Linked DNA regions of Homo sapiens: regions 2 and 3 are each linked to region 1. Evidence: fine-mapped expression QTL. A gene starts in region 1. Each other region holds a variant in brackets. All regions are shown on one strand. Distances are from middle to middle.

Region 1 (10,805 bases):
TAAAATAAAAACCCTTTCCTTTAAATGCATATTTTAAGACTCTTGGATTGCTTGAGAATTGATAATAAAGAGGAGTGAGCCATAGATCACAATGGAAAAATACTTAGTTTTTTTCTTTTTTGACGTGCAATGACTCACATCTGTGAAATGGCAAAACTCATAATAGAGATAAAAAAAAATGAGTTGATGAGTTTTAAGTTTAAAGCATTAACCTGAAGCCTGGGGAACTCATCTGTTTTCATGATTCCTTCCATCTCTGTTTTTTTTGCTTGGCATTTATTTCCAGAGCTAAGTAAATTACCTAAGCTTTCACCAGGAATAAGAAACTTATCTTCTGGCTGGGCGCAGTGGCTCACGCTTGTAATCCCAGCCTTTTGGGAGACCGAGGTGGGCAGATCATAAGGTCAGGAGATCAAGACTATCCTGTCCAACATGGTGAAACACCATCTCTACTGAAAATATCAAAATTAGCCTGGTGTGGCTGTGTGCGCCTGTAGTCCCAGCTACTCAGGAGGCTGAGGCAGAAGAACTGCTTGAACACGGGAGGCGGAGGCTGCAGTGAGCTGAGATTGAGCCACTGCACTCCAGACTGGGCGACAGAGCAAGACTCTGTCTCAAAACAGAAAAGAAACTTATCTTCTGACTCTCATGAGGATAGACTTGGGTAGTCAAATTTTTGATGTTCAGACACACTTGATTCAAGAAAAAGTATTTTCTCTGGTTTTGGATCAACACCTCTATCTTTAATGCCCAAACAAATTCCAAGTGGCTCTCCACCTCTACCTTTTGCAAGATGTTCTCAGCTTCAGATTTATTAGCGCATGCGTGCTTTCATGTACACACACATCTACATATCTCTTAAGCTTTCAGTCTAAAACAATGAATTGACTATTGGAACATTTCTCTTGATTCAAAATTATATGTTTTTTCTTTTATTGAAGTAAAATTTATATACGAGCAATGCACAGCTTTTAAGTGTAAAATTCTATGAGTTTTGACAAATGTAACATCACCCAAATAGAACACCTGCATCACCTTAGGAAGATCCCTTATGCCTCATTTTTTTTTTTTAAAAAGAGCATTTAATATTAATCATTGCATAAAAAATGAAATGCCTTGAAATCCTACAGTTATATATGAAAGAAACTTGAGAGGTCTTCCAAAATTTGAAAACATATTAAAAGTGTAAATGTTATTATCAGTAATAAATGCGAGGGTGGGATTTTCCTAAATTGTCAATAATAAAATTGTGATCAACCATGCTAGAGAAAAGACTGGGCTATCTATTCAACCCATAGAAAATGTCACACAATCAATCTACCACTTCACACCCACTAAGATGGCTGTAATCAAACACAAAAACAATAATGAGTGTGGGTGAGGATGTGGAGAAATTAGAACCTTCATACATTGCTCTGGTAGGAATGTAGAGTGGTGCGGCCACTGTGGAAAACAGATTGGAAATAAAGTTATACAGTCACGATATAACCCACAATTTCTACTCTAGGTAGAATGGAAAAGAGAAATGGAAACATAACAGCTACATGAAAACTTGTACATAAATTTTTATAGTAGTGTTATTCCTAACAGCCAAAAAGTAGAAACAACTGAAATGTCCATGAACTCATAAATGGATCAATAAAATGTGGCCTATCCACACAATGGAATATTATTTAGCAATAAAAAATGAAGTTCTGATATATGCTACAATATGGATGAGCATTGAAAACATTATGATAAGTGCAAGAAGCCAGTCACAAAGACCACATATTTTATGATTCCATTTATATGAAATGTCCAGAATAGGCAAATCTGTAGAAACAGAAAGTAAATTAGTGTTTGCCAGGGACTGAGGGGTTTGGAGGGAAAAGAGGAGCGACCGCCAATGGGGATAGGGTTTCTTTAGGGGATGATGAAAAGTTTCCAGAGTTGACTGTGGTGATGATTGCACAAATCTGTGAATATAGTAAACACATTGATTTGTACTCTTTAAATGGGTGAGTTGTGTGGTATGTGAATTGGATCTTGATAAAGCTGTTTTAAAAAAATCTTTCCAATGAGATTATCAAGAGTATGTAGCCAGGCTGGGCACGGTCACTCATGCCTGTAATCCCAACACTTTGGGAGGCTGAGGCAGAAGGACTGTTTGAGGCCAGGAGTTGGACACTAGCCTAGCCATATAGGGAGACCCCATCTTAAATAAATGTAAAGTTAGCTGGGTCTGGTGGTGTGTGCCTGTAGTCCCAGATACTTGGGTGGCTGAGGTGGGAGGATTACTTGAGTCTGGGAGGTAGAGGCTGCAGTGAGCTGTGATTGCACCACTGTACTCCAGCCTGGTCAATGGAGTGAGATACTGTCTCAAAAAAAAAAAAAAAAAAAAGTATGTAGCCAAAATACTTGAGGAAAAAGTATTGCTATGGCTTGAATGTCCCTGCCAACATTCATGTTGAAATTTAATTGCCATTGTAATAGGACTAAGAGGTGGGGCCTTTAAGAGGTGATTGGGTCATAAGGGCTCTGCTCTCATGAATGCTGTTATTAAGAGAGTGAGTCAGTTATCTAGAGAATGGGCTTCTGACAAAAGGATAAGTTTGGACCCCATTTGCTTCCCGTCTCTTGTGCTTGCTTGCTATGTGATGCTTTCCACCATGGAACCACCCTCACCATGTGCTGTTGCTGTGCTCTTGGACTTCCAGCCTCCAGAACTGTGAGAGATTCATTTCTTTTCTTTATTAATTACCTAGTCTGTGGTATTCTCTTATAGCAGCAGAAAACAGGTGAAGACAAATATTACTGAAGTGTTTTAGGAAGTTTATTACTACAAAATATTATGTAGGTGGTAGATAAAACTATTGTGTGATTTTTCTGGATTTGGTAATGTTTGTGGGATTTGTCAACTCTTAGAAATTTGTATTTGAGATTTTTGTCATTCTAAATAAACGTTCATGTTGTACTAAAAAATAAATATTCAATAATCTGGGCTTTTCAGTGACCTTCAGAAATAGGAAGGATTAACTGTATGCATGAATAATACATGATGGAATTTCATCTTCCTTTTCTTCTTTTGACCTGCAGTATATAATGTCTTGCCTACTATATAGTCTCTCCACACCACATACATTAGGGCTCATGGGAAGAGGTGGGGGAGGAATATGTTATTGGATAAATATACACTAGCCCATGCCTAGGTGGTCTGCGTGCCTCCTTTCTTTTTTTACCAAGGCGGGTGCTTGTGTATTCTGACACTGAACTTGAGCACTGGGGGCTATGGTAGCAGAAATGGGGATTCTTACTTCATTTTTAATATTTCCAAAAGCCTAACAAAATATTTACACACAAAATACATGCTGGCAAAAATGAAATGTCAATGTTTATTTGATTTGCTTTAGGCTTCATTGACTTAGTAGTGGTAACACTGGCTAATTTATGCTGATCAGAACCTCTAACCATTTTATCTTTGATTATTTATAACTGGACGAATGAATGATTATTTAATAGATGTGATCAGCTTTATAAGTACAATCTTAAAATATTTTGGCTTCAGGGATAAAACCAATTAAAAATTTCCTTTGCGATGGAAATTGGAAACACATTTCTGTGGCTTCACTTATGAAATGCTCCTCTATTGAACATTCACTATAGGCCAGGAGCTTTCCTTAATTTATCATGCTAATAACACTTCTGTATGGCATTATTAACCCAATTTTATAAATGAGGAAACAGAGGCTCAGATTATAGATGTCTATGCCCAAGTCCCTTAACTAGAAATATCAAGTAAATCTATGTCCACCCTGCCTCCTATATGATTACTTTTTTTTGTTTGTTTATGAGTTGGTTAATTTCCCAGGTAAAGGCCAGTAGGCCAGTGGTCAAGCCTCAGGGTAGCAACTACATTTTGTACTGGGTCTTACTTTTGATGCTTTGCCAACAAAACCGTCAAGGAAGGCAGGAGTTGACTGGGAATAGGCACACTGGGACTGTCTCTGTAGGGTATGTACGCAAGGGTAAAGGGAGATCACAAACGAGAAATATGCCTGTATTCGTCCATTTTCACACTGCTGATAAAGACACACCGGAGACTGGGCAGTTTACAAATGAAAGAGGTTTATTGGACTTGCAGTTCCACATGGTTGGGAGGCCTCACAATCATGGCGTAAAGCAAGGAGGAGCATGTCACATCTTAAGCGGATGGCAGTAGGCCAAGAGAGAGCTTGTGCAACAAGCGCTCCCATTTTTAAAATCTTCAGATCTCGTGAGACTCATTCACTATGACGAGAACAGCCCAGGAAAGACCCGCCCCCATAATTCAATCACCTCCCACAAGGTTCCTCCCACACACCTGGGAACTGCGGGACTTACAATTCAAGATGAGATTTGGGTGGGGATACAGCCAAACCATATCAATGCCCAAGTGACTGGGGTGCTTCCAAACCTACACAGCTGCTCACACTGCTGCTCTGGCAGGGGGAGCATGAGCTGCGGACGTTTTTCTGAAGTTGGAGTGAATTTGTATAAAGGCATACACTCCCTCATGCTGGCTCCTCTGGTGGGTGTCCAAGGCTTCCTTTGATAGATGCAGATGGGGCAGCCAAGGCAAAGTAGGTGACTTATGTGGCCTTGGTGCATCTCAGCTATGCTCACCGGGCAGCCCATGCTGACATGGTGGGCGAGATCGTGGGGCCACCAGGGAACCTGACTCCACTCCCATCTCTAAGCTTGGCCAAGTCAGTCACTTCTCGTTATTGGGGCGTCTTCTACCTGTCACTTGAAAAAGACTGTTCTTTGGAACAATAAGGCGGTAACACATACACAGGACCACCCTGTAGCCGGCCACACAGGTTCCGCCTCCAGGTGCTTGGATCTACTTAACGGACCTCCCAGGGGGAAAGATTTGCGGTCTCTCCGTCCCTCTACCAGGGGAGGGCGCCGTTCCAGCCCTTGCCTCTGCGGCACAGATCAAAGGACGGAGGAAAAAAGGTGCGGGTCCGGGGCACTAATGTTCGAAAATGCAGTTTTAAGTGACCTCTCCCCGCGCACGCACTGTCGGTGGGGGCAGTCCCGAGGCCAGGCTGCGGGGCGCCTGGGGGGACTCGCCTCAGGGGGAAATGGCCCTTTCAGGGCTCGACGGGTCCCCGGGACTAAACGCTCCGGCCGCGGATCGGTGCCGGGGGAGCCCGGTCAGAGAGGCCGGGACCCCGAGGGACGCCTAGGTGCGTGTCCCGAAGCCCGCGTACCTCCAGCCCCGGCGAGACGGCGCCCAACTCGCGGCTCCAGTCACACGGCCCTTCCTGAGAGGAAACACCAGGGAAAGCACCTCTCACTTTTCTCAGGGTGGGAAAACTGTGAAGGAAGAAGACAAAGCAACAGGCAGGTTTTCGCTCGCGGGCTGGAGGCTGGGCCCAGGGCGGGCGCGCGGCTGCGGGAGGCAGCGGACGGTCCGGGCCGCTCGAGGGCTGCACTGCGAGGGTCTGGATCGCCTCCAGCCTCCCCCGGAGGCCCCGCCCCTGCCCTGGAGACCCCGCCCCCGCCTCGGAGGCCCAGCCACCTCCCCCCTCCCCGAGGCGTCGGCCCCGCCTCTCCGCCCTCCGCCCTCCGCCCCCGGGGCCCGCCACCGCCGGCCCGCCTGCGCCGCCTTCGCTTTGACGTTACTGGGGGCCGGGCGGGCGGCTGCCGCGGGCTCGCAGCCTCGCCAGCCTCCGCCAGGGTGCGCGCGGGCCGCCGCCTCTCGGCAGTCCCGGGAGCTCAACAAAGAGCACGCGGCGCTGGCCGCCGGCACTCGCGCCCTGAGGCTGCGGCCCCGGAGCGCCCGGCGGCGGTTTCGGCGCGCGGCCGGGCTGGCGATGGAAGATGGAAGGAAGGAGCGCAGCGGTGAGCTCCGGGGCCGGGGCGCGGGCGCGGGGTGCGCACGCGGCGCCGCTGTTCGACGTGGGGTTTGTGTTGCTTTGTCGCCGCTCTGTCCCCCAGGATCCCGGGGCCACCTGGGTTTGTGCTGTCTGGATAGGTGCAGGGTGCGATTTTTCTCTTCGCGCTTGCTTGCTTTGTGTTTTTTAGGAGCCCAGCAGGGTCAACTTTGTGGTGTTAAGGTTTAGGGGTTTTAGTTCATACCTCGGCTTTGAAAACCTCAGACTTTGGAGAAAAGCTATCAAAAGAAGGCAACATGAAAGAGGACCTCGTATGCCGATCTTTCTTTGCCCGGTCAGCTTGTATTTAGGGACTATCACGTTTCTGTCAGAAAGAAAGAAAAAAAGACTAAACTAAACAAACTTGAATTGAGCGAGCAAACGGACAAGGGAAGATTATTCGGTGCAATTCCCAGGAGCTTTTACAGATGTTTAAGTCATTCTGTTTTACATGCATTTAACTTTATCCGCCGTTTTCAGCTTTCCGTTCTGGCGAATGATGTTCTGAATTTTTTTTTTAAACACATTAACACCGATTAGAGGACGTGGGTTTAGAATGTTGTTGGTGACCTAAATAATAAATGTTTCGTTTTGCCATTCCCCTCGATGTCAAAGGATGTTAAACGCCCACTAGGCAGAGGATGGAATGGGCACCACGATTTCATTTTCTAGACACTGGTTCTCCCGATAGCGGGATCCAGGATTTCCGCTCCAGAATAACTCTTGAGTGGGTCCAGGTGTTGGTGTAGGGAAGACGGAGATCTGGAAAATTACTGTAAGTGGGATTCTGGCAACAAATGCCTCAATGCGTTCGTTGTAATTGAGTATGTGCAAAGGATTTTGCAAAGCCCGGTAGCTAGGTAAGTAGGATAGGATTTCTGCTTTCAAGAAGCGTGCTTGAGAGCTTGCCTGGGAGAGACTTATGCGTAGGCTACCATGGAGGATCTCAGAGGAAGCTTCTGGCCTCCGGGCTTGGAAGTTCTCAGAGAGGAGCTGGCAGTTATGCTGGACCTTGAAAGGGAGGGGTTGATTGGATTTTTGTGAGATGTGAGGGAAAGGATGTCCCCTGCTAAAGGAAAGGGAATTCACTTTCTACCCTTTTCCAAGAAATGATCCTTTCTTTTCTGAGAGTATTTACAAACCAAGAGGTTTTCTTTTCAAAAAGTCATGAAATTCCTCTTCAGCAGTTAAAAGTGCAACATGCTCAACATCACCAGTTAAGCAAATGCAAAATAAATTAGCACCTTTTCAACCAGTTTTTAGTGGCTGGCTGGATGTCCTTCCACAACCTTTTTATATCCATCCACAAGTGATTTGTCTTGTAAGATATTTCATTAATAGAAGCTTTTTGTACTAAAAGGAGTAGAGTGGTATCAAGAAAGGGACTTGGATCTGTAGGTAGGACACCTAGCTTAGAGGCTTTGCCACTGACTGGGTGAGTTTTTGCCACCGTCTTGGGCAAATTATTTAACTTCTGTCGCTACAGTTTCCTGGTAGGGTGAGGGGATTAGGTAGATGCTCTTTCAGAGCCTTCTAGCCCTACCATTTGATATTTCCATGCCTAGACACGTTTTATGCATTACTTATTCAGTGATGTACTCTTAATTTCACATTCTAAATATCTGTTTGTGTGTTCTGTGAATGGATCAGCACTCTTATCCTGACCATTGAATGTGGGAGAGTGATTAGAGCTACAAAGCTAAAATAACCTTATTACGGCCAAATTCCGTGGTTGAATGTTGTTGTTGTTTTTTTTTTTTTAAATGCGAGCATAAGAAGCTTGATTTGCCAATCTTAATGTGTGTTTTCTTTAAAGAAAGTTTTGTTGACACTGTTCATTTGTGACCAAAGAATAACATATACCTTATTATGTACATTGCACTTAAGCAATTCAATTCTGCTTTTAATCAGATACTAGTAATTTAAAAAATTGAGTAACCTTGGAAATTCTTACAGGCTAGTAAATCTTGGGAATTTGGAAATAAAAAAATAAAGTAAGATGGAAGTAGCTCATTGAAAAAGAAAAATTTAAAGGTACTTTCAGTCAATGGCTCTGCCCTCTTTCTAAAACCTTGATATTTACATATTTGTTTGCCAGCCCTGATGGAAAATTATTTGAGTGGAATTTAGCGTGGCATTACATTGAAAAAACATGTCCATGGTACTACTACTTTTGGAGGTGATTTTTTTTCTTTTATAGAAATTCAGGTGTGATTTGTCATGCATTATTCATAAACTAAGACACCAGTGTGGTGATAGGTTAATTGCAGTCTTGGTTAAGAGATGCTGAGGCAAAACCATGTGAATATTAAAATGTGTATCTGCTTTGGCTTAAAGACTGGTTTGTTTGAGGTTTACATGGGGTAATGTCATTTGGACATTATGAAAAGAGTGTCTTTGGGTTTGGGTTGGATTGGGAGGTGAGTTATGGATAGTGATCGTTTCCAATTTTTGGAAAGGAATTCAGACATGATTGAAGTTGGGTCAGACTGTAAAAAATAATCTGGTGACCAAAGTCTGTGGAGTTTAGTATGTGAATCAGGCTTATAGGAGGCTGGGGATCTAGTGTGACCTTGAATTACTGCTGTTGTGATTCTCACCATTTAGGGGTTCTTCCCGGACCGTCTGGGCCAAGCACAGAGGTCCTTGGCTTCCCTTTGCTAAGAGTGGAAGTGTTTTCACTTTGAATATTGCCTCTCAGTTCTTCCTAGTTCTTTTACAGTTAAACCAGCCTGGCTTTCATTTAGGAGAGTACAGGATCCATGTGAAATTCTCCAGAGCATTTGTTCGGAGTGCCCATATCTTGACAGCTTGTGTTGTTTGTGATATTGTATGCAGACTCAGGGATTTGCTGGAAAGAATTTAAGTGGTGGCATTATTTTTTCAAAGAGTGTTTCTGAGTTACGTTGACCATCTTTCAAGGACATTTTTCACAAGCTCCAAATTAAGTAGTGTTGTAGTGGCTGTTGCAATTTACAATGGAGAAAAAGGATAATTTGCAGCATATAGTTAACAAGTTATTCTTAAATCCAAATTACCAAATGTCCATGCCTCATTTGAAAATAAGGCATAACTCAACATTAATAATGAATCTTTGCGTGTGCTATCTTATTTATATAAAAACAGTGCATGTCCCTGCAGTGCTTGTTTGCTCTACCAAAAGAAAGGTTTTTCACTGCGCCCAGAAGGTCAACAAACTTGGGCCCAGTTGGTGCCTAGTGGGGAGGGACTTTGTTGACACATCAGGGCACAGAGGTGGCAGAGCATTTTCTCTCTTGGTGACACCGGTGGTGTGAGGGATCCGCCCGCTCTTCTCCCCTTCCTGCATGTCAGGCTGCGGCCATGGCAGACCACTCACTCCTTGAGGCTTACTTGAGGACCACTCACTCCTGAGCCATCTGGTTTGAAATTCCCTTTCCTCTGAGTGTACATCAGTGAGATGAATCAGAATAATTTATACATGTTGAAGGATATTTTTAAAAGATTATTATTGGAGTTAGGGATTTAGGATAACTGGGAAAATTAACATTTTGACCTAAGCTGGTGTTCTTTTCTTACATGGTATTTTCACACGGGTCTTCTGAGAAAGCAGCATTTTCTAAGTTTCTTGTTAAGTCCTGATTTTTCTGTTGTTGTTGTTGACACAAGATCTCACTCTGTCACCCAGGCTGGAGTGCAATGGTGCGATCTCAGCTCACTGCAACCCCTGCCTCTCAGACTCAAGCAATTCTCCTGTCTCAGCCTCCCGAGTGGCTGGGACCACAGGTACACGCCACTGCGCCCAGCTTAATTTTTGTATTTTTAGTATAGACGGGGTTTCATCGTGTTGCCCAGGCTGGTCTCAAACTCCTGAGCTCAGGTGATCTGCCTTCCTTGGCCTCCCAAAGTGCTGGAATTACAGGCATGAGCCACCAGGCCCGGCCAAGTCCTAACTTTTGGAAAACGCTTATTTCGAGTGATATTTTCCTGGCATGGGGCGTTTTTACAATCACAGCTAATGTTTATTGAGTTCTTACTTGGGTTGTCTCCCTTATTCCCCATGACAACCCATGAGGTCAGTAGTGTCATTATTTCCATTCTGAAGTCAGGAGAGGTTAAGGAACCTGCTCAAGATCCCACAGTGAGTAAGTGGCAGAGCTGAGACTTTAAACTCAGGTCATCCAATTTTCTTAACCACCATTCTGTTTTTATGTCTCAAAGTTAGCATTGCGTGTTGCAGAAACTGAGCTCTTTGGCTCTAATATTTAGATTATTCGAGTCTTGGAATCTGAATATTGGATGACTAATTCATCACCGACCATTATACATTTGTTGGCTTAATAGTGGGACCAGATTTGTTGTTTGGCTCAAGAGATAGAAATGGTGTAATTAAACAACAACAACAAAACCCCTGGGGTGTCTAAAAGGATCTCTGTAGGACCACATGTAAGGAGTTCCACGTAGTTATGTGTCATTAATTGGAATTCACAATAAAGCAGATTAACAAATTAAAATGGAATGTATTTTAATTTCTTTTTAATTTCTAATTTAATTTCTAATTGCATCACCTCAGAGAAGTGATCTAGATGCTTCAACCACAGAGGGTGTTGACACAGTGAAGGCTGCTTTTCCTTGTTATTTCTTCCCATGAGCTGGGGCTTAGAGATTGTTAAGAAAAGGAGCTTGAAACAATGAGGAGGAGGATGGGGAATGAGCCGAGGGCATTCATAAGACCAGGCGGCAGCTGCTCCCTGTTTCCCTGGCCTTCTGTTCTCAGACCTTTGCTAAGAAAAAGTGAATTATAGAAATCGAGCAGCTTGGTTTTCTTATGCCTGTTTGGTCTGTGGACAAGAGAAGTAGAAAATTTTAATAGAAGCAGCTGTAGCTTCTTTTGTTTGGCCTCTAGGAGATTACTGGTTAAGGGCC
Region 2 (10,805 bases), 190 kb after region 1:
GGAGACCCAGGGAAGCCTCTGGTGTTGTTGGAAGGCCTGAGCGACAGAGAGCTGATAATTTAGATTGTAGTCTGAGTATGAAAGCCTGAGAACCAGGAGCTCTGAGGGCAGAAAAGAGAAATGTCCCAGTTTAGCAGTCAGGAAGAGATTGAATTCAGACTTTGTCTACCCTTTTATTCATTTAGGCCTTTGGGCTTTGGATGATACCCACCTACATTGGGGAGGGCCATCCGCTTTACTCAGTCCACCACTCAAACGCTCATCTCTTCTAGAAGCAGCCTCACAAACACACCCAGAAACAATGTTTAACCAGGTGTCTAGATATCCTGTGGCCCAGTCAAGTTGACACGTAAAATTAACCATCCCAGGACCTTTTTGCTGTAGGGGGAAATACGGAAGAACTTGATTCTGATCAAATGAAGAGACTGTGAATCGACTACATAGATCCCTGTGGGATGTGCTGATTTTGCTAATGCTTTTAAAGCCAGCAATGAGTTGCGTGTGGAGGTTAGGGAAGAGATCAGATTTTCACAGGTTGTTCTCAGTCCATTGAAAATATTGATCAGTTAAAACAGTAATGTTCAAAGTATGAATCATAATTTCTTAAATCATCCTCTCCTTTGAGCTGGGACTGGAAAAAGAAGAAATCATCTTCATTCAAAATACTGAAACCCTCTGAGTTAATTTGTACCAGTGAATAGGATTCTCTTCCCCTCAACACTCATATCCCTAATTATTATTTATCCTCTAATAAAATACAAGGTAGTTACGGTGAGGATGCTTATAGCCAGTGGACACTGAATGCCTAGTTAGACCATTTGTGATTCTCAAACCGGGTTGCACCCCAGAACCTGTGAATCTGACTCTTGGGGGTGGTACCTGGCCATGTGTGTTTTTAACAAGCTTCCCAGGTGACTCTTACAGACACTGAATTTGGAGAGTCTGGTGGTCTTCACAACTGACAACTCTAAAAACCTACTGGTGCAGTAGTTTTCTAAATTTGTTTAGAACTTAGGATGCCTTTTGAAATATAACTAACTTTTGGGTTCTCAAACTTTAGGTCTGAGATGGGACCTAAAGTTGCCTCTAACAATTTCCCATGTAGTTCTAATACACACATAAGTTTCAGGGACTGCACTAGTATATTGTAGTATTGCAGAAAGGCAGGGTTTTTCAAATTCTGTTTAGGTACAAAATGATTCATAGTCAAATAAATCTGAGAAATGCTGGAAAGTTAAAACATTGTATGTGTGTATTTTTTTATAGCTTTGATTTTTCAGAGCCTAGAGCACACTAGGGTTTTATAGAATACTGTTTTGGGGGGACTTATGGAAAGAGGGCAATTCTTGTCCTCTTGTTTGTTCAAATACTTGACTAAAAGGATGATGCTGGACTCGTGTATGCCCTGGCACGCTGGCTGAAGTACTGTGTGTTATTGATACTCTGCCTAGGGATCTAATTTGACTCTTCTAGTTATCTGTATCGCAGTCAGGTGTTGACAAAGCCATCTTGATCTCTGTTCTTATTCACTGCTTCCCCCAAACACTACACATTTCTTTGTAGCATTTACCATAGATAATAAAGTGTATGCCTTAGCCAGTGATAGATGGCCCCTGAATTTATTCTGGGAATTGCGCAGAATTTAATTTTTCTATTTCTATTTTGTAAAATCAAGAATTCTGGGAAGCAGAAACCATTAAAGTCTTAAATATCTTAAGACTAATACCTAATTTTGAGTTACTGATTTTGTTTAATCCCCACAGTAACCCTGTAAGGCAGGTGTTCTGATCCTTAGTATTTACAGATGAGGAAACTAAGGATGAGAAAGGTGACATAATTTAGAGCTGAGACCTGAACTTTGGTCGGCTTGAGCCTCCAAATTTATCATTTCTTTTCTCTTCACCATGTTGCCTTCCTTTCAACTATATAAGGGCAGTGGAATGTTTACTGTGGAAGGTACTCTAGGACTGAAGACAGATACATGTGGTTAATTCTAACTTTATATCTAAGTATCTTTGTGTCTTTGGAAAATTGACATAGCCTGGGTCTCACTTTAAAAAAGTTACTGATTTTCTTAGAGACACGGCCATGTCTGTCACCCAGGCTAGAGTGCAGTGGCATGATCATACCTGATTGTAGCCTCAAAGTCCTGGGCTCACGTGCTCTTCCCGCCTCAGCCTCCCAAGTAGGCAGGACCACAGACATGTACAGATAAGCCTGGAAATTTGTTTTATTTAGGCAAGGTCTCACGGTGTTGTCCAGGCTGGTCTCGAACTCCTAGGCTTGAGCAATCCTCCCGCCTCAGCCACCCAAAGTGCAGGGATTACAGGCTTGAGCTACCATGCCTGACCTCACTTTTTCTCCACTAAGTTTATAGTGCTTTCTAGGCCGCCTTGTCAGCGTATTAGGAAACACTTGTGAACATGGAATGGGGTGTGTGTGTGTGTGTGTGTGTGTGTGTGTGTGTGAGTGTGTTTAAGATAAAGCACCATGTGTAATTGTAAGGAGAGAGGAGGTATGGTGTCCTCATTTTCCCAAAAACTTAGGCAAGTTTTAAATGGTATCAATGAGAGTTACATCTGCAAGTATTTTAGTTGCTATGGAGTGACTAGCATGTGACAGTACTGTGTGACAAGGTGTAGAAACGTCATCTCTTGGGTGACTTGCAGCTGGTGACATTGCAGAATTCAATGATAAGTTGCGGAATTCAGGATCTCTTGTGGCAGGACCCAGAAGGCGGTTTGATCATCAATAGGGCAGGACTTTTCATACCTCTAGTGAATAAAGGGGAGGGGAGAATTCACGCCTTTGCTATTATTGCCACTTTACTTGTATTTTGTTCTTATTTTGAGTGGCTAGGGTAAAGATCTTTTAACTGATTTAAAGGATGTTTAGTTTTTATTTTATCAGCCCTAGTTCCAATGATAGGAATTCAAAATGTAAAACTTAGACTGTCTAGATGACTTGATTATAGTTGAAGGAGAAATTTTAAAGCGAGCTTGAAGAATGGTGCCAAAGTGCATCTTATTTTCTGCAGACTCCGAAGAAAGGAGTGTATCCTCTGAGGGGAAGTTCCAGACTGGCAGGTCTATTTTGGCTTCAGGTATGCTTTTCTAGTTATTGAAGTGATAAGGTTTTTTTTTTTTTTTTCCTGTCTCTCCATTCTCCCTTTTCCTCCTTCTTTATAAAACCAGATTAATATTATCTATTATATGCTTTAGAAATAATATTAAAGAATGGAGCTTAAATTGAAACTTCAAGAGCTGATTGATTGGATCGGCTTGCCATTTTTGGAGTGAGCACATGTGCTGGATGGGAGTGAGGTAGTGCCAGGACCTAGGAGAAGCACATTTAAGCAAATATTCTTGTGCTGTAAACTTTAAAATACCTGAACCTGGTCATCTGACATGGATTTTTTTATTTGAGAAGATGAGATGTACATGGGGTTAATATACTAGGGAGGTCAGCATATGACTTTTCCGTGGTGAATTTCATTCTGAAATGTCAGTGTTCTCTGAAAGTCATAAAACATGAGTGCAAGCTGTTTTCTGAGTTCATCTCTGATATGCAGCTTCTTGAGGCAGATAGTTGGGAATTGCTTAGTGGTTCACACTGATAGCTTATGTCATTTAGGTCAGGAGGCAGAGACTGTCGCTAGGGAGATATTGGCGTAGGAGGGACAGTTTGACACAGGACATCACAGCCAGGTCACAGACTTTTGCCATTTTAAGAGTTGAATTTGAGGATGATTCTACTTTATTCTCGCACCAGGTGGAGTATTGCTCTTAAGAGTATGTTTGTCCAGCTTAGGGGGTGGTGAAGGGGTACTTGGAACACACTCCCGGGGATGGACTGTACTACTACTAAAGGAACAACACAGGTTGGTTCTGCTGTCAAGTGATGCCTGAATGATGTCCTTTGGAGAACTGGATGGGACACAGGACAGACTTTATTTAGGGCTATGCATCATACTTCTTCTTAGGATATTTCTTTGTATCATGTACAAGACCTTCCCATGGCCCCTTCTCAACCAAAGTTTCTGTGTAGAAAAAAACCTTATTGTGTAAATCTAATAGCTTAGCAAAAGTTGGAATGCCTGTTTCACAAAGAGTGTGTTGCATGTAGAAAAGATAGAAAGTAAATAGGAAGTAAACAAAAAATTATCAAGGTGGTGAAACAAAGAAAATTTTTTTTCTTTTCTGAAGGACTTTTACGTCTTTATTGTCTTTGCTAAGGGTACTAAGGTGCATTGTGACTCTGCAGTCGGGGGCTTAGAAGTTAAAGAACTCGATTACTTGCCAGTCTTATTTTTTCTTAGGATGGAGGTTGTCCTCTAAGCAACCATTTGTGTGTGTGTGTGTGTGTGTGTGTGTGTGGTGTGTGTGCATGTGTGTGCATGTGTGTGTGGGTATTCCCTTCTCAAAACACTTGAAGTGAGAGGCTAAATTATGACTTAAAATCAAAATTATTATTTGAAGCCATGGGTATAGAAGTTTAAGAGCCACCTGGAATTGGAGCTTTGTTATTGGGGTGTGTGTGTGTGTGTGTGTGTGTGTGTGTGTGTTGTGGGGGTCAAAATTTTGGAATTAAAATGACATTGCTATTTAATATTATCTGCAGCAGTGTTTGAATTAGCTGGAATAT[T/C]GTTCATTTCCATAGAAACTGGTCACAAATGAGAAACAATATTATTCAGTTTTGTTAGGAAAAACTCAAGAGCTTGTAATTTTGTTAGGCCTTGATTATAAATACTGGTCTTAACTAATTCACGCAAATTTCATCCAACCTGTAATTTTTTTTCATGAGGAATAGTTACCTATAATCTCAAGGTGCAGCTTTTTGGAACCTGGTATTATTTTTTTTGGAAAATGAAAAAGTAAAATTCTAATAATAATCTCAAATGTATTCTTAGTCTCTAATAATAGCAGTGCTTACAAAATATCATTCTCATTTAGCTACACTGAAAAATAGCATTTTAAAAGGCGTTGAATAGAGAGAATTTCTGTAGCTTTTTGAATGGTCTTGTTTGAGGAATTGGCCATAAAACTTTAGAATTAAATGTCAAAAAAAAAAAAGAATTTCAAAATACCTTGTTTTGCCCAAAGCAGAAGGAATTTTTATGCCGTCATTGTTTGAATGTCATGACCTATAAATGAAAATAAACAGAATAAAATCTTGTTTTTAAACATTAAACGTTAGGCTGGGTGCAGTGACTCCATGCCTTTTATAATCTCAGCATTTGGGGAGGCTGGGGTAGGAGAATTACTTAAGTCCAGGAGTTCGAGACTAGCTTGGGCAACATCATGAGCCCCTGTGTCTACAAACATTTTAAAAATTAGCTGAGCATTGTGACTCACGCCTGTGGTCCCAGTTAGGAGGCTGAAGAGGGAGGATTGCCTGTGCCCAGGAGGCTGAGGCTGCAGTTCCGCCACTGCACTCCAGCCTGGGTGATAGAGCAGGATGCTGTCTCAAAAGAGAAAAGAAAACCAGAATTAAATGTTACTGAGTTTTAAGGCAACTGCATACAGCAGACTGTTGTATTTGTGGGTTCCACATTGGCAGTTTCCACCAACTGGAGATGGAAAATAGATTTAAAAAAAAAGAAATGGTTGCATCTCTACTGAGAATGTTCGTATTTTTTTCTTGTCATTATTCCCCAAACAATAAAGTATAACAACTATTAACATAGCATTTACATTGTCTAGGTATTAAAAGTAGCTTAGAGATGACTTAAGGTATACAGCAGAGTGTATATAGGTTATATTTAAATACTGAGTGCCAGTTTATATCAGGGACTTGAACATCCATGGATTTTGGTATTTTGTAGGGGAGTGTTCTAGAACCAGTACCCCACAGATACCAAGGGATGACAGTACTAGTGAAAACAAACAACATCAAATTTTTTGAATCTAAGATACTATTGATTGGGAGATAAGTCAGTATCTTAATTTATTATATTTTATATTTTACATATTTAAAAGTATATTTTCATATATTTTCTGCTACTGCCAGAAAAGAATATGCCATTTCACTTGGAGAAAATGGTGTTAAATACAAAATCAAGAAAAAAAAAAAAAAAAGGAAAAAAATGCCAGCAATTAACTATGACACAGTGCTTTCTCTTGGAGTTTCTAATAATTCTTAAACTTACAGATTTTTACATACAAATGACTTTGGCATATTCTCGATGCTTGCCTGCATAAATAATACTTTTGTCTCAGTACCTTTTATAGCATCTTTTTGAAGACACTGTAAACATCAATTAAATCAAGATTAAACCAACAGTATAATTTTGCGTTGTGCACAGGTAATAAAAGTCTGACAGCCACCTGGCTGCCAGGGTTCACACTGGTTGATGCATGAGAAAACCATTCTGGCTGGGTGCGGAGGCTCACGCCTGTAAACCCAGCACTTTGGGAGGCCGAGGCTGGCAGATCACGAGGTCAGGAGATCAAGATCATCCTGGCCAACACGGTGAAACCCCATCTCTACTAAACAGACAAAAATTAGCTGGGCGTGGTGGTGGGCGCCTGCAGTCCTAGCTACTCAGGAGGCTGAGGTGGGCGAATCACATGAACCCTGGAGGCGGAGGTTGCAGTGAGCCAAGATTGCGCCACTGCACTCCAGCCTGAGCGACAGAGTGAGACTCCATCTCAAAAAAAAAAAAAAAAAAAAATCCATTCTAATTTTAAAGAATTTGAAATATTTAAAAAATGTGTCTAGGAACTAATGAAATATGAATTTGTATTTACATAGTTTTGCCAAAAACAGCACTTTTGCCTTATCCCTCTGGAGAGGTTCAGGGGAAGAGTTTGGGGAGGGCTTTTTTTGTTTCTATTGAGTAGCATCTCTGGCTGCTTCTGTCCTCATCCCCTCCCTTCATGAAGGCTCATGATCTGGTTCTGAAGGATTCTTTTTGGTGATTCAAGCTGGTTTGTGCTGCCTGTTACTTTATCCTCTCCTTTAGACTCTGTCTTTTTTAGTTTCCTTGAAAAATACTTGTCAAAGTATTTGTTGACTAAACCTACCCTCTGGAAAGCCTGGCTTTGTCAACAGCTGTTTACCTTGTCATCTCTGCTGTATACAATGGTGCAGTGGACAAAAAGTGTTGGATTTGGAGTCAGGAGTTCTGTCTCTGGGTACCAGTTGTTTTGATATGAACAGTCGTTAGGTAGTCTTGCCGGGAAGTTCTCCAGTTCACTTTCTTAAGTCCTTGTGGCCTAGAGGTAGGTGCTTGTCCAGATTACTCCACAATTCCTCTGGATCACATCAAGGGTCTCTGATGTAACAGGCAGACATGCCCTGAATTCTGCTTGTTTACCTGTGAGCCCTGGCAGGGATGACTTTTCCCCCCAACCCACCTGCCCCCATTTATCAGTCCAAGGGGATTCCTATTTAAATTTACTCTAACAATCTGTTAGGAGGTTCTGACTGTCACTAATATAAGATTATAAATGTAAAGGCCTTGTCACATTTTAGAAAGCCAGAAAATGCAATGTTTTTCTTCCCAACTGATTTTAAAGACTCTTCATTCTTTCTTTCCTTTTTTTGCTGGTTGTTGGGGGGGGTATGGAGAGGACATTATTCACTAAATTTGTTGTCTACTGGGTCTCTTTAATTCTCAGTTTATTTGCAGAGCAGATTGTCCTGTCTTGTGCCCAATAACTGAATCTGTTCCAGCTTATGTCACTAACCTCTTTTTACCTCCAAAATGCCATGATTTCAGTCTTAAAATACCAAACACTTTGAGATTGAGTTAGATGGCAGATAACATCTAATTCACATTAAAGAACACAGCGCTCACCCTCCTCGCCTTACAGGTAGTTTGGTTCTAGGAGGCGCTAGTGTGAAATCAAAGGGCAAAGTAAGATCATGTATAGCTCCCTAAAAAAAAAAAGTAGCTCCCTACTTTAAAATATAATAAATGAAGGGAAGGAAAAACTAGTTTAAAAGCGTAGAAACTGACAACAATAGTTGTCTTTCATAAAGGTAACGTAGGCTGGACACGGTGGCTCACGTCTGTAATCCAAGCACTTTGGGAGGCCGAGGCGGATGGATCACCAGAGGTCAGGAGTTTGAGACCAGCCTGGCCAACATGGCAAAACCCCTTCTCTACTAAAAATGAAAAAAATTAGCCAAGCGTAGTGGCAGGTGCCTGTAGTCCCAGCTGCTAGGGAGGCTGAGGTGGGAGAATCGCTTGAACCGGGGAGGCAGAGGTTGCAGTGAGCCGAGATCGCGCCACTGCACTCCAGCCTGGGCGACAGAGTGAGACTCCGTCTCAAAAAAACCAAAACCAAAAACAAAAAACGTAATGCATATAATCTATTTAGTAATCATGGTTTTAGTTTTCTTAGGTTAGATATTAAGAGCTGAAGACCTTCCCCTCTTCACCGCTGCATTCTGTCCACTTTGCTTTTGCCACTTTTTCACGTTGCTCCCCATTTGGCAACAATAAGGGATAAGCATTAAAAGATCTGCAACATAGAGAGAGCTCATTGGCAGATGATTTCCGCTGATCAGAGTCTCTAGATTCCGTAATAAGGAAATTGCTTACAATAAAACTCAGAAACTTTCAGCTTTGTATACAGATTCATGAAAGAAAACATTTGAATTACTGCTTTTGGGCATCTTCTACTCAAGTTGATAGCTGCATTGAGACGAGTACACAGTTGTTTGACTTTTCCTTTAAGCTTCTTGCAATTTGATTTAGGACAGTTGTACTGAGCGTATGTTAAAGCCCAGCCATTATCCAAGGTGCTGTGTTAGAAATTTCATTAAGATAAGGATTCAGCCTTAGAAAAATCACAGACTAGCCCTCGGGGCACAGTGCTGGGGAGAGTATGCTCTGAATCCATGACCTACAGGGTGAATTAGGTGATTGATAAGAGTCTGGACCCTTAGATGATGTGATGGTCATGGAGAGGTACTGCAGAATTACAGGGGGAACTGCGAAACAGCCCACGAACTTTGGAAGCTAACATGTGTCTAAAGTACATATATGATACTAATAACCTTTTGTAAATTGTTGTACCTTCTCCGATTGTGGAAGTTGGAGAATCGGCAGTTAATTTTGAAGCTTCCAAGTGATTGACTACTTTGAAATTGTAAGTGAATTCAGGCCTTCCTTGGGACTCTTTAACTCCTCTTCCCCTTGCTCACTCCTCTCCAGCCATGGAGGCTCCTCTGGGCCATCACTTAAAACTTACCAAACGCCATCTTGCCCAGGCCTGCATTTGTTTGAAATGATCTGAAGATAGCTTGCAAAGCCACATCCTCAGTTCCTTCTATTTTCTACTCACATGGTACTTTCTGAGTGCTGTGAATAAAATAGCAACCCCTCCCTCTCCTCTTGCATACCTAGCTATATTTATCTCCAAGGCACTTATGAATGTCACTGTCTGAGTGTAAACTCCTTGAAAGCAAGGACTTTCATCTGTTGATGCTTTATTAGACCTAATATTTACCTGGAACAGTGTGTGAGTCGTAACATGTTCAGATATTTGTGGGAGGGTGAAAGGCAGGAACAGAGGGAAAACTCTTCATGTATTTTATTGTTTCTCTCTCTTATTAGAAGGTAAAAGTCCACAAGGGCAAGGCTGCACCCCTAGCACTTAGAAATGTGCTGGCACATAGTCAATGTTTAAATAAATAATTGGAGTGAAAATTTGTGCAGGTTTGGTTGTGTATACTTAATTATGCAACCATAGTAAACACATATACAGATGTCCTTTAAAAAGTAGAAATGTTTGTTCCTATATACACCAAAGTTATGCGTGCAGTATAACCTGTAGTAATATCGGTTAGAAAGCCACATAGCTTATTAGTTAAGAGGCTGAATGCACAACTGCAGCCGCCATTGCTGAGCCCCAATCCCAGCTTTACCTCCTGCTGGCAGAATGGTCATGGCAAAGTTATTTAACTGCACCATACCTCAGTTTCCTTTTTTGTAAAATGGGAATGATGGAAGTACCTATCGTAAGGTCAAGGGCATTAAGTGAGTTAGTATAAAGTGCTTAAAATAGTGTATTAAACAGAGTAAACATTCTGGAATTCTTCATAAAAATATGTTAAGACAAAATATTTATTGATATTATTACTAATTCATTCATATTGGGTACTAAAGAGTGGAAACGTCCCCTGTTAATCCCATAGCCCCAGATGAAGATGACCCTTTGGATCTGTCTCCAGGGGAGCTGGAATATTTTAAAGAGATGAAAGCAGGAAGTGACAGAGATAGGATTTTATTTCCTAAGGGGAGGGTCTTACTCCTTGTATTCTTGCCAGGGTACTAATTCTTTCCTCTTTTTTAACATTGCACACAAAATTAAGTGAATCCAAGAAACCTTCCCTATATCGCATAGAGCAGCTTTCAGTGTAGTTGTAGTAGGTAGCACTTAGGGGAAACTCAGTGTAGAGAGGATATGTTGTCAGGCTGCTGCTGTAGAAACTGCCTGTAGCGTGCATAAAGAGAAAGTGAAGTTATGTGCAAGGTGAGACCGTACGGCCATGTCGTCAGTGGGTGTGTCAGCAGGAGAGGGACACTGCAGAACAGATACGCAGTTCCAAACACGCCAAAGAGAAACACAGCAACGCCTGTGCTATAGGACACTGGAAAAGGTGTCGTAAGAATTTGAAGAAAGGGGCTGGACGCAGTGGCTCCCTCTCATAATCCCAGCACTTTGGGAGGCCGAGGTGGAGAGATCACTTGAGGCCAGGAGTTCGAGACCAGCCTGGCCAACATGGTGAAACCCCATCTCTACTAAAAATACAAAAAAATTAGCCAGGCATGGGGGCATGCGCCTGTGATC
Region 3 (10,805 bases), 40 kb before region 1:
GTGGATGGCATAAGGAATTTCCATGGGCAGCGTTCAGCCTCAATACAGCTAACCAGCCCAAAAGATCACTGGGGGACAGTCAATCTTTCCTGTGGCTCTTGCCAGCCATATATGCTATATCTCTTCAGGTTGGGTAGCTCTGCTTTGAAGAGTGAACGCGAGGGCCAGCTATGGGTGCCCATCCTTCAATTAACCTCACCTGGGTCACAGAAACCAGCTGAATATTTGCCTTGATTTCCAAAGCCATGGAGAACAATGACAACATCCTCACTTCCTCTTTCCAAGGTGCTCCACGTGATGGCTCCCTCTCACCCTACAGGCCTCGGTACTGATGAGCCACTAACCATCAAAAATAGCTAGATAAGGAGCTGGCACTGTTCTCTAATTTCCAGAAACATCTCCAAACTTCAAGAAACTTTTGTACAATGTGCTTAATCACCCAATTTAGGGAAAAGGAAGAGATACAGGTAGAATTTAAGTTGGGCCTAGCTGGTAGGGTAGACAACACTTTTTTAAAAAAATTATCATACAGTAAAATTGACTTGTGTCTGTGTGTGTGTATGTACAGTTCTATGAATTTTAACACACATATAATATAAATGTATATAAATTATATATAAATTTTATATACTTATATTGTATATGCTATTATATATTATATATTACAATGTAATATATCATATAATTTTACATTATAGATTATATTATAAATATATTTATATAAATTTGTACAACTATCACCAAAATCAGGAAACAGAACTGTTATATCACCCAAAACAACTCATTAATGCTATCCCTTTATACTTATACTTTCTCCCCACCCATAATCCCTGGAAACCATTGATCTGTTCCTCATCGCTGTAGTTTAGTGCTTTCAAGAATATCAAAACAAACGAAACCACAAAGTACGTAACCCACTGAGACTTGTTTCTTTCACTCAGCAAATCTCAATGATTTTGAGATTCAACCAAGTTATTTCATGTATCAACAGTTTGTTCCTTTCTGCTACTGAATATTCCACTTACAGGTGACCCTTAGTTTGTTTACTCATTCATCCTTTGAAAGACATGTTAGTTGTTTTCAAGTTTTGGTGATTATGAATAGAGGGGCTGTAAGTGGTCCTGTAGAGGTTTTTGTGTGAATAGAAGTTCTCAGTTCTCTAGGGAAAATAGGAGTGGGATAGCTGGGTCATATGATGAGCGTATGTTTAACTTTTATAAAAAGCTGCCAAACTGTTTTCTAGAGTGGCCCTGTCATTTTGCACGCCCACCAGCAATGTATGCGAGAGCTAGTTTCTCCACATCCTTGCCAGTATTTGATATTTTCTTTTTCTTTTTTGCCATTCTAATAAATGTGTAGTGGTATCTCATCATGGTTTTGGAATTTATTTCACTAATAGGTGTCCTTATAACCTATTTGGGGTCTTGGAGGCCCTCTTCTTTGGGGGCATAACTCTTTAGTTGCTAGATGAAGCAAATGTTTAGCAGGGTCCCAGAGAAGGGGCCAAGATAGGAGGAGAGGTGGGGTAAGGTGGCTAAGGATGGTAACTATTTACAACCAGTATGAAATATTTCAATATTTAACAACTGGTATAGCCAAACTAGTAGAGATCATTGAATGTAAGTCCTGGATCTTGCAAAGAACACAGAAGGCGTGACCAGAGTGGTGGGCAGAGGTTTTCGTGTCATAGAAAACTGAAGGGTTAATTGTGTTTCATGCTGCTGAGATGAGGCCATGTGGAGACCTTGACAAGAGGTCAAGAGAAACTTCCATGGAAAGATGGGGGTGAAACCAAATTCTAGTAGGCTGAAGAGCAGTATGTGTATACCACTCTTGGAGTGAACGAGAGTGGTTATGAACAAGAGTAGAGAAATTTCTTGTTCAAATTTGATTATGAACAAGAGTAGAGAAATGAGGCAGCGGGTGGAAGAATGCATAAAGAGATAGTCAAACATGTTCATATGCCAGTGAGAGCAGTACAGGGAGTATGTGCTGTTGATGCAGGATTGAGGGGTTAACCAAGGGGAACCAGTTTTAAGAAGGAAAGAGATGAAGTAGCATCAAGAGCTCATCAAAAGCTAGCTAGAGGCAAACCGGCGTATAGGTTTGGTGATAGCAAGATGAAAGTTCATACCCTTATCAGACAGCTTCTATTTTCTTAATAAAAGTGTAAGCTGAGCTCATCACCCACAGCTTGGGAGATTAGAGGGAATTTTTAGAGCAGAACAAGCTTCTACCTAACCTCTTGTGAATTCTTACACAGTGAATCCCTTTATTGTATTCTTTTTATCTCTATTTCTTTTTACTTTTGTCTTTGTTCACTTATTTTGAATTCCTGCCACTAAGGAAGGGGTCAGCAAGGGATATTTGGATATATTTGCACCAGACATGTAATCAGGGTTCACTTAGCTTCCCAATGTGGAACCTAGAAAACCAGCGACAGAGTTTGGAATAGTTGATGAAGGAGCCAAACTGATAATGGAAAATGTGCACAGACATAATATGTAGTTTGGAGCCTTAATGGAATGTTTGCTGCCTGTTGAAATTTGGAAATGATAGCAACTGCTTTGCTAATATGATTTCAACTTAGACATATCTTCATTTGCCCATGCATTTTTCATGCTAATTAGATTGTGTACATGGAATTTGTCCATGCTTTCCATCAGGAGCCTTCTTTTTTCTTTATAATTGTACAACGTGTCAAAACTCTGACTTCTCTTCTACTGAAAGGAACAGTTCCAAGAAATTTTTTTAAATTAAATCCACATATTCAGACCCAGTTTCTGACTGGCTCGATCAATTATGTTATAGGAGGGTCAGTTTTATTTGCAAAGCTGCAACCATTAACTGCCTGGAGGCCATGACAGGTTTCTTTTGTGGACTATTTTTTAAGTTATAGATTCTACATTGAAATAATATATTTTGTCTGCCTGTATTTGAAAACGATCAAAGAAAAGGAAGTTATCCCACGAAGACGTTACTGCAAGTGATCGCATTTCAATGAGATTAAAAGTCAAAGAATAGCAACAAGGGGCAGAGTATTTAACACTAAGGAGAAGAAAAGAAGTCAGACTGACATAAAGATTTTTCAAGATAATAGAGTTATGTTACAGCAGAATGTGTCTTTAAGGAGGTGTGTAGCAGCATTTTTAATAAGAGAACAGATAACCTGGGAAAGTAGTGTGTTCTCCTGACATATGCATCAGCAAGGCTGAGTGTTGAATTGCATTGATTTCTGTGTCTACCTTTGGTGAACAGCTTTCCAATCAAGTTTAATGTAATCTGAATACAGGAAAAGGAATCACTGCCAAGATGAAATCTCTGTCGCCACAGGTCACAGCAGGAGGTGTGAATTCAGTGAGGTTTGACATTTCAGTGCACTTGTCTTAATTGTGTAACTTTGCTTTGTCAACAGTCTGTATCATGAACACCAACTATACTTACCCTTTCTAAACCTTTTGCCTATTCTTGGTATCTTGACCTTAAAAACCATAGCTTAGTCCTTTCTCCCAAGGATTAATGATGCAGACCAGTGAAAAAAAAGTCTACAAATCGGCCGGGCACGGTGGCTCACGCCTGTAATCCCAGCACTTTGGGAGGCCGAGGCGGGTGAATCACCTGAGGTCAGGAGTTCGAGACCAGCCTGGCTAACCTGGTGAAATGCCATCTCTACTAAAAATACACAATTAGCTGAGCGTCGTGGCGGGCGCCTGTAACCCCAGCTACGTGGGAGGCTGAGGCAGGACAATCACTTGAACCTGGGAGGTGGAGACTGCAGTGAGCCGAGACTCTGCCATTGCACTCCAGCCTGGGCAAAAAGAGCAAAACTCTGTCCAAAAAAAAAGAGTCTATAAATCATCTAGGACGTAAACATGTCATTAGTTTTGTATGAACTGCCTCTTGGGTAACCATCCTAAATTAAGCTAGGCAAGACTATTCTATGGCAACATAGCAACATCTGGCTCTCAGTGGATTAATGCAACAAAGGCTTATTTCTTGCTCATGCAACTCAAGTAAAGAGAAGAGAGATCAAGTAGAGGAATCAGAGCTTTTCACTGCCTTGGCCCAGAAGTGACAAATGCATCTCACATTGTCTAGGAGAAGTCACAGTGCTTTGTCTACCTGTACAGGGGTGAACAGGTAGTCTTCCCTGTGCCCAGGTGAGCACTAGAAGTTTCTATCACAAATTTTCTTTCTGCTGGTAATAAATAATAACATATATGTCTATAGTGTATAATGTATATGATATTCTAATTTTCTAATTGACTTAGTTTAAAGGTTCTCCAAGCCTAGAATTTCAGGTCTATCAGGATTTAATATTGTTTGTGCTATCAGATGTTATCAAGCGATAAATTTGTTATTATGATTCTGTTTTGAGAATAGTTTCTTTAATCTCAGTTTTACAAAATAGTTTTACCTCACAGGTATTATTAATATGAAGTTTACCAAAAATATGAATTCCTTGGAATAAATCTGGCAGATATCCAAAGGTAGATTCTTTACTGCATTTTCAGCATATAAAAAATTACGGCAGATGTGGGGAAGAAAATGGAGATGGTAAAAATAAGTAAATAAGTTGAATCCATGACAAGATGATTATAGAGCTCTGGGAATATCATTTTCTCCTTCCCTTCCTCCTTTCCTTTCTTTTTTCTTTCCCTCAACAAACATTATTCAGTCTCTGACATATGCTACAAGTTCTTCCAGGCACCAAAAAGATGATCATAAACCAGGTAGCCATTGTCCCTGCATTAGTTTGGGTAACACGGGATACTCTCACAGATAA[A/G]CTCCTGAATCTCAAGGGCTTAACAGAATGGCAGTTTCCTTTAAATTCCTGTACAGTCCAAAATGTGTGTTTCTGAGCTGTGGGAGGATGTTTTCAATCAGCAATTCAGGGGCTAGCCTCCCTCACTTACATGACTCCATCAATTCAACATGTAGCTTCCAAAGCACTGGATGGCAACAAGCCCGCGGCAGGAGAAAGGCCCTAGAGGATCCCATGAAGGGGAGTTTCAGGGACCTGGTCTAGCAGTGCTGTACATCAGGCCCAAGTACCAGTACAACTTACAGTCAGAGGAGAAGACACTTAAAGGACAGGAAGAAGTAAGCTCAAGGAGTCCTCTTTTGGCTTAACTAACCACTAAGGTGAAAGCCAACCAAGTAAGCAGTCTTGTAACTCCAAGACTGCAACCTTCCTTAGGTGAACAAAAATCAAAATTTCATTCATTCATTTGTACAAATAATTATTGAGTGCCTTCTCTTCCGGGCACTTTTCTAGGTATACAGAATACTGCAGTGAACAAAACAGAAAAAAATCCTTCCCTCACAGATCTAGTGATAAAGTTTAAGATACCATTAGCATGTCACTTTTTTTTTTTTCTTGAGACGAAGTCTCACTGCAATTCTCCTGCCTCAGCCTCCTGAGTAGCTGGGACTACAGGCGCCCACCACCACCCACCTAGCTAATTTTTGTATTTTTAGTAGAGACGGGGTTTCCTCATGTTGGTCTCGAACTCCTGGCCTCAAGTGATCCGGCTGCCTTGGCCTCCAAAAGTGCTGGGATTACAGGTGTGAGCCACCACACCCGGCCTGTGTTCCCTCTTGATTAGGCTTCAGATGTTTTTCCAAGTTCATCTTAAGTCTCTTTGTTTCCTTACTTCATCTCCTCATTTGATAAGAAATGAAGCTTTCTCTAAATCACTCTGTCCCAGCATTCTCTCCTGTGAGATTTCATTTTATTCTTTTTCTCTTTCAAGAAGAGAGGAGTGGGTGTGTGCAGCAGGGGGCAGGGGACGCAGTGCGGAGGGATGATTCTGTCCTCAGCACTTGTTCCAGAGCCACCACACATCCCCATTTGTTCCCACCACCTGCCTTTAAGACGTTACTCCAGTCATCCCCTGTGCGCCATAGACCCACTTTCACCTTCCTAAGATGACTTTAACACTTGGGATTTCTGTCTGATTGAATTTATAGTGAACCACTGTGGTGAAAGCCTGCCCAGTAAGTCACCTTGTCACTCCAAGACTACAACCTCCTAGCCACTCACCCTCCTAGGGAATTTCCCTAAATTTACCTGTGTGGCCAAAGCCCTGGCTCCAGGCTGCTCATCTCCTGCCTGACCTTCCACAGTGTGAAGGCTCGAGGTGGGGAATTTGTCATTGTCAGTAGGAAGTGACACAAGCAGGCCCTCTACAAGTAAGCCTGGGCAGCTTGGCTGGACTTCCTCTACCTACTCACATTCAAAGCTGCACCCAAGCACCTGTCCCTCCCCAGTGTGCCTGATTTTCAAGTCTTGGGGGCACCCAATGGACCCACCCACCCACAGCTTAGGGGGCTCAAGTCCTGACCTTCAGCCGTCACCAAGATTGGCAGCAACTAGACTCCTTCCCCCTTTGTGTAGACAATCTGACCCATTCTGATATTACCGAACTCCTTTCCCAACTTGGACTTCCGAATTAGCTGAATTAACAATGAAGCCTCCACCCCATTCCTCAAGATCTGAGTTTAGGTAATAAAGCACAGCTAGAGAAACTACAAGAAACAGTTTCCAGACTAAACCAATTCTCAGCTCTTGACACTTTGCTTTGCTCATTTTCTGTATTTCTTTTCTTTTTCTTTTTCTTTTTTTTTTTTTTTGAGACAGAGTCTCGCTCTGTCACCAGGCTGGAGTGCAGTGGTGCGATCTCGGCTCACTGCAACCTCTGCCTCCTGGGTTCAAGTGATTCTCCTGCCTCAGCCTCCTGAGTAGCTGGGACTACAGGCGCATGTCACCACACCTGGCTAATGTTTGTATTTTTAGTAGAGATGAGGTTTCACTGTGTTAGTCAGAATGATCTCAATCTCCTGACCTTGGGATCCGCCCACCCCGGCCTCCCAAAGTGCTGGGATTACAGGCGTGAGCCACCGTGCCCGGCCACTTTTCTGTATTTCTTTAATGAACTTTCTGACTTTCTCACCACAGTGGCTTTTCTGGACCATCCTTGCTCTCTTCCAGCCTCCACCTTTGCTTCCATCCAATCTTGCTCCTCCCTGCAGACCTTGCCATGGAAAGCCTGAAATTGGGCAAATTGTGGACCCTGGCACAAATGCCCCCTTCCTCATTCTCCATCACTTTGATCTAATTTTATTTCTACATCTGTCCTCTCTTTTTCTTGTAGTATCAGTGGAAGATATTTTCCTATTCCTTCCTGGAGTTAATTAATCTACCTGTGCTCTGAATTTCTTCACGCCTGAGCTAAGAGATCTTACTCCTGTAGACTGTAATTTTTCATTAGTTCTTTGTGTTTTTCTCCCTGAAACAGATGTGTGAGCTCTTGTACTATGCTAGGTACGGTGGATACAATGATGAACCAAATGTAACCCCTGCCAGCAGTCTAGTAGGGGAAGATGGTAACATGCTAATCCCCCAACTTTGTTATAAATCAGCATGACACAATGACAAATCGTTCTGCAGGTAGTTACTGGAAGGAGCAATTATTCTGATTGGGGATTTTTATTTCCTCTGCTGCCTCAGAGCCAATTTCCACACTCCAGGAGCAGAAAGAATAGAAAGGAAGAAAATTCATGCAAACACACTCATTAAAACATTCACCCATTCAGAAAATATTTATTGAGTGCCTAGTATGTGCCAGCACTATGTGGGGTGATGGAGACACCCTAAGAAACTGCATTCATGGAGTTTATAGATAACTAAAGATGACAAGTTTTGATAACACGAATAAGTATAAGCTAAAAAGGGGCAACACTGAGTCATATGAGAGTATGTAACAGAGAGTGTAGTCTGATCCCAGAAAGCAGGAAAGCCTTCTTAGGACCTGGATAATGGAACTGAAACTGAGAACTGAAGGACGAGCGCTGGTTATCGAGGCAAAGATGGGAAGGAATGAGCATCCCCCGATTGGGACCAGAGGGAGGAGGGTCTCTTGGACCAGCTTAAGAAGCTGTGTGTTTATTCTAAGAGCCATGGAGATGCTGAAGGTCTTTATGCAGAGGTGAGACATGATCAGATGTGCACCCTAGCTGCAGTGTGGAGAGGTTTGGATAGACTCTGAGGATGTTGGAAGAGCACTAGAATTGGAATCTGGAGTCATATGTCTTAACATCAAATCCTATGAGCCTACAGATCTTAAGCAAACTCTCTTTCCTTTCTGAGGCTCTGTTTCTGCCTCAGGACACCATGACAGTTGGGAGAGAATGTGAGTGACTAGCTCCTGGCTCACGGGAGGTTTTCAGCCCACTTGTTTAATTCCTTATCTTTTTCTGTATTTTTTTTTATACTTTAAGATTTAGGGTACATATGCACAATGTGCAGGTTAGTTACATATGTATACATGTGCCATGCTGGTGTGCTGCACCCATTAACTCGTCAATTAGCATTAGGTATATCTCCTAATGCTATCCCTCCCCCTTCCCACCACCCCACAACAGTCCCCAGAGTGTGATGTTCCCCTTCCTGTGTCCATGTGTTCTCATTGTTCACTTCCCACCTATGAGTGAGAATATGCGGTGTTTGGTTTTTTGTTCTTGCGATAGTTTACTGAGAATGATGATTTCCAATTTCATCCATGTCCCTACAAAGGATGTGAACTCATCATTTTTTATGGCTGCATAGTATTCCATGGTGTATATGTGCCACATTTTCTTAATCCAGTCTATCATTGTTGGGCATTTGGGTTGGTTCCAAGTCTTTGTTATTGTGAATAGTGCTGCAATAAACATACGTGTGCATGTGTCTTTATAGCAGCATGATTTTTCTGTATTTTCTAAGCCTCTTAGCCATTATATCCTTGACAGGCGGGGATATGGGCATGGGCGTAGATTGTGAAGCCCACTGCATTTTTGTGGCTAGTTCTTTTTCTGCTCAGAAAGGACATTCTGGCACACTTCCAAGGCCCAGAAATGACAGAGTCATTTTAATTAGAACACTTTCTTTTTTCTAATTTGCAAATTGCAGTCCTCAAAGACTAACTTAGCAGAGCTGACATGGCCTCCTTGACCTACATTATAAGTAATGAGCTCTTGATCTAAGAATTAATGCAGTCTCCATCACGAGTTGATTGGCATGTTTGAACAAAAGTGTTATGTTTTCAAAGCCCTGGCTTATTTGAGACTTTCAACTTTCTGTTGAAAAGTGGTTGGAACTAGGAATTTTAATTGCTCCATTCCTTCCCTTGTCATGATTGGTTTTTATTAATGGGTTTGTCAGTTAACAGGTTACACTGTAAGTGGCAGGGATGGGATTCCAGTCAGGGAATCTGGCTTCAGACTCGAATTTGCCATGCTGCTCTGTGTCTCACTAATCAATGCAGGCTCAGGAGGCCGAGGAGAGAAAATAACCTATGTTTTTACCTTTTCATTAGAGGAGAAAATAGAGACATCTTCACTATTGTCTTTTTTTTTTTTTTTTTTTTTTTTTTGAGACAGGGTCTTAGTCTGTCACCCAGGTTAGACTGCAGTGGAGCAATCGTGGCTCACAGCAGCCTCAAACTCCTGGGCTCAAGTGATCCTCCTGCCTTGGCCTCCCAAGTAGCTTGGACTACAGGTTTGCACCACTATGTCTGGCTAATTTTTTAAAAATTTTGCAGAGGTAGGGTCTTGCTATGTTGTCTGGGCTGGTCCTGAACTTCTGGCCTCAAGCATTTCTCCTGCCGTGGCCTCCCAGAGCACTGAGATTGCAGGTGTGGGCCACTGTGCCTGGCACATCATCCTTTCTCATAGATTGTAAAGGCACATGAAGGTCTTAGAAGCACAGGGAGCTCATTCAAACATATGGCTTAGATTTAAGGGATTTCTGACCTCTTCCTTGTGTGTAGGACTACGACGATGGGAGATAGTCTCTCCGCTCCACCTTGCAAGATATCACCTCCTTTTGGAGCCTATTATGGGATGACTTGTGTCCTCCTCAAAATTCGCGTATTAAATTCCTAACACTCAGTACCTCCAAATGTGACTGTATTTGGCGATAGGGCCTTTAAGGAGGTAATTAAGGTAAAATGAGGTCATTAGGTAAAATTAGATAGGGATTTAAAGAGGTAATTAAGGCAAAATGAGGTCATATTGGACCCTAATCCAGCATGACTGGTGTTCTTATAAAGAGATTAGGACACAGGCAACACAGAGACTGAGGGGTGACCCTGTGAGGATAGAGCAAGAAGGCAGCAAGCAAAGGAGAGAGGCTTTAGAAGAAACCAAACCTGCCAATGCCTTGATCTTGGCCTTCTAGTCTCCAGAGCTGTGAGAAAATCAACTTCTGTTGCTTAAGTCACCCAGTCTGTGGTGTTTTGTTATGGCAGCCCTAGCAAACAAATACAGAACCTAAGGAGCTCTACCAAATCCATGTAAAATGAGGAAGCTTCATTAAGATTCTTTGCTTCCCTGCTCATATAGAATCCATTGGATTCTAACAGTGACAGTTCTATTTTGTGAATGAGGCTGATTACTGCTTCACAGGCAAAGTGTATCTCTACGGCTGTCAACTCAGCATTTCACAGTTCTCATGTTTATTGGCCATCTTGATAACTTGGAGTCTCCATCTCCCTTACTTCTTTCTCATTTCTTTTCCACGGATATACAAGCTAGCACTTTGGCAGTTAAACTGCTTTGAGTACATAAAGGTATTAATTCAGCAGCTGAGCCCCCTTTCATTATTTTATCCATATATTTTTGCAAGCTTAATGGTTTTTACCATTTACCATGCTCAAGGCTGTAAACCATTTCTCCAGGAATCTGACTTTCAAAGGTGCAGGCTTTAAATGAGTTTTGCCCTTGTAAAAGGTCCCATAAAAAACATCTTTAGGTGCTCTTAA

Which allele goes with the higher level. Positions count from the first base shown, and alleles are read on the strand shown. Sizes are in standard deviations (SD) of each study's normalised expression.
In carriers of allele C in region 2, the expression in atrial appendage of the gene that starts at base 5,728 in region 1 tends to be lower than with T alone (small effect, 0.38 SD a copy in GTEx).
For the expression in thyroid of the gene that starts at base 5,728 in region 1, A is the high allele of the variant in region 3 and G is the other (small effect, 0.23 SD a copy in GTEx).

What was found. PIP is the estimated chance that this variant, and not a neighbour inherited with it, causes the effect.
Region 2: its variant is the best candidate, but not a certain one, in a credible set for the expression of PSD3 in atrial appendage (GTEx, PIP 0.69).
Region 3: its variant is the best candidate, but not a certain one, in a credible set for the expression of PSD3 in thyroid (GTEx, PIP 0.67).

Annotation. Positions count from the first base shown.
Region 1 is chr8:19,008,626-19,019,430 of GRCh38, reverse strand. It overlaps PSD3 (pleckstrin and Sec7 domain containing 3), which reads left to right and starts at 5,728. Exons shown (of 16, transcript NM_015310.4): 1 at 5,728-5,868. The coding sequence starts at 5,848. LOC124901898 (a long non-coding RNA gene) reads right to left here and starts at 5,428. Exons shown (of 2, transcript XR_007060840.1): 1 at 5,235-5,428. RefSeq lists silencers at 5,585-5,674, 5,745-5,844.
Region 2 is chr8:18,815,444-18,826,248 of GRCh38, reverse strand. The region is part of intron 4 of PSD3 (pleckstrin and Sec7 domain containing 3); the gene reads left to right. Among named protein-coding and RNA genes, the nearest start is that of PSD3-AS1, 100 kb to the right of the region's middle. The variant T/C (reference allele first, on the strand shown) is at 4,645.
Region 3 is chr8:19,048,302-19,059,106 of GRCh38, reverse strand. It overlaps a transcript of PSD3 not described here. Among named protein-coding and RNA genes, the nearest start is that of PSD3, 40 kb to the right of the region's middle. The variant A/G (reference allele first, on the strand shown) is at 4,787.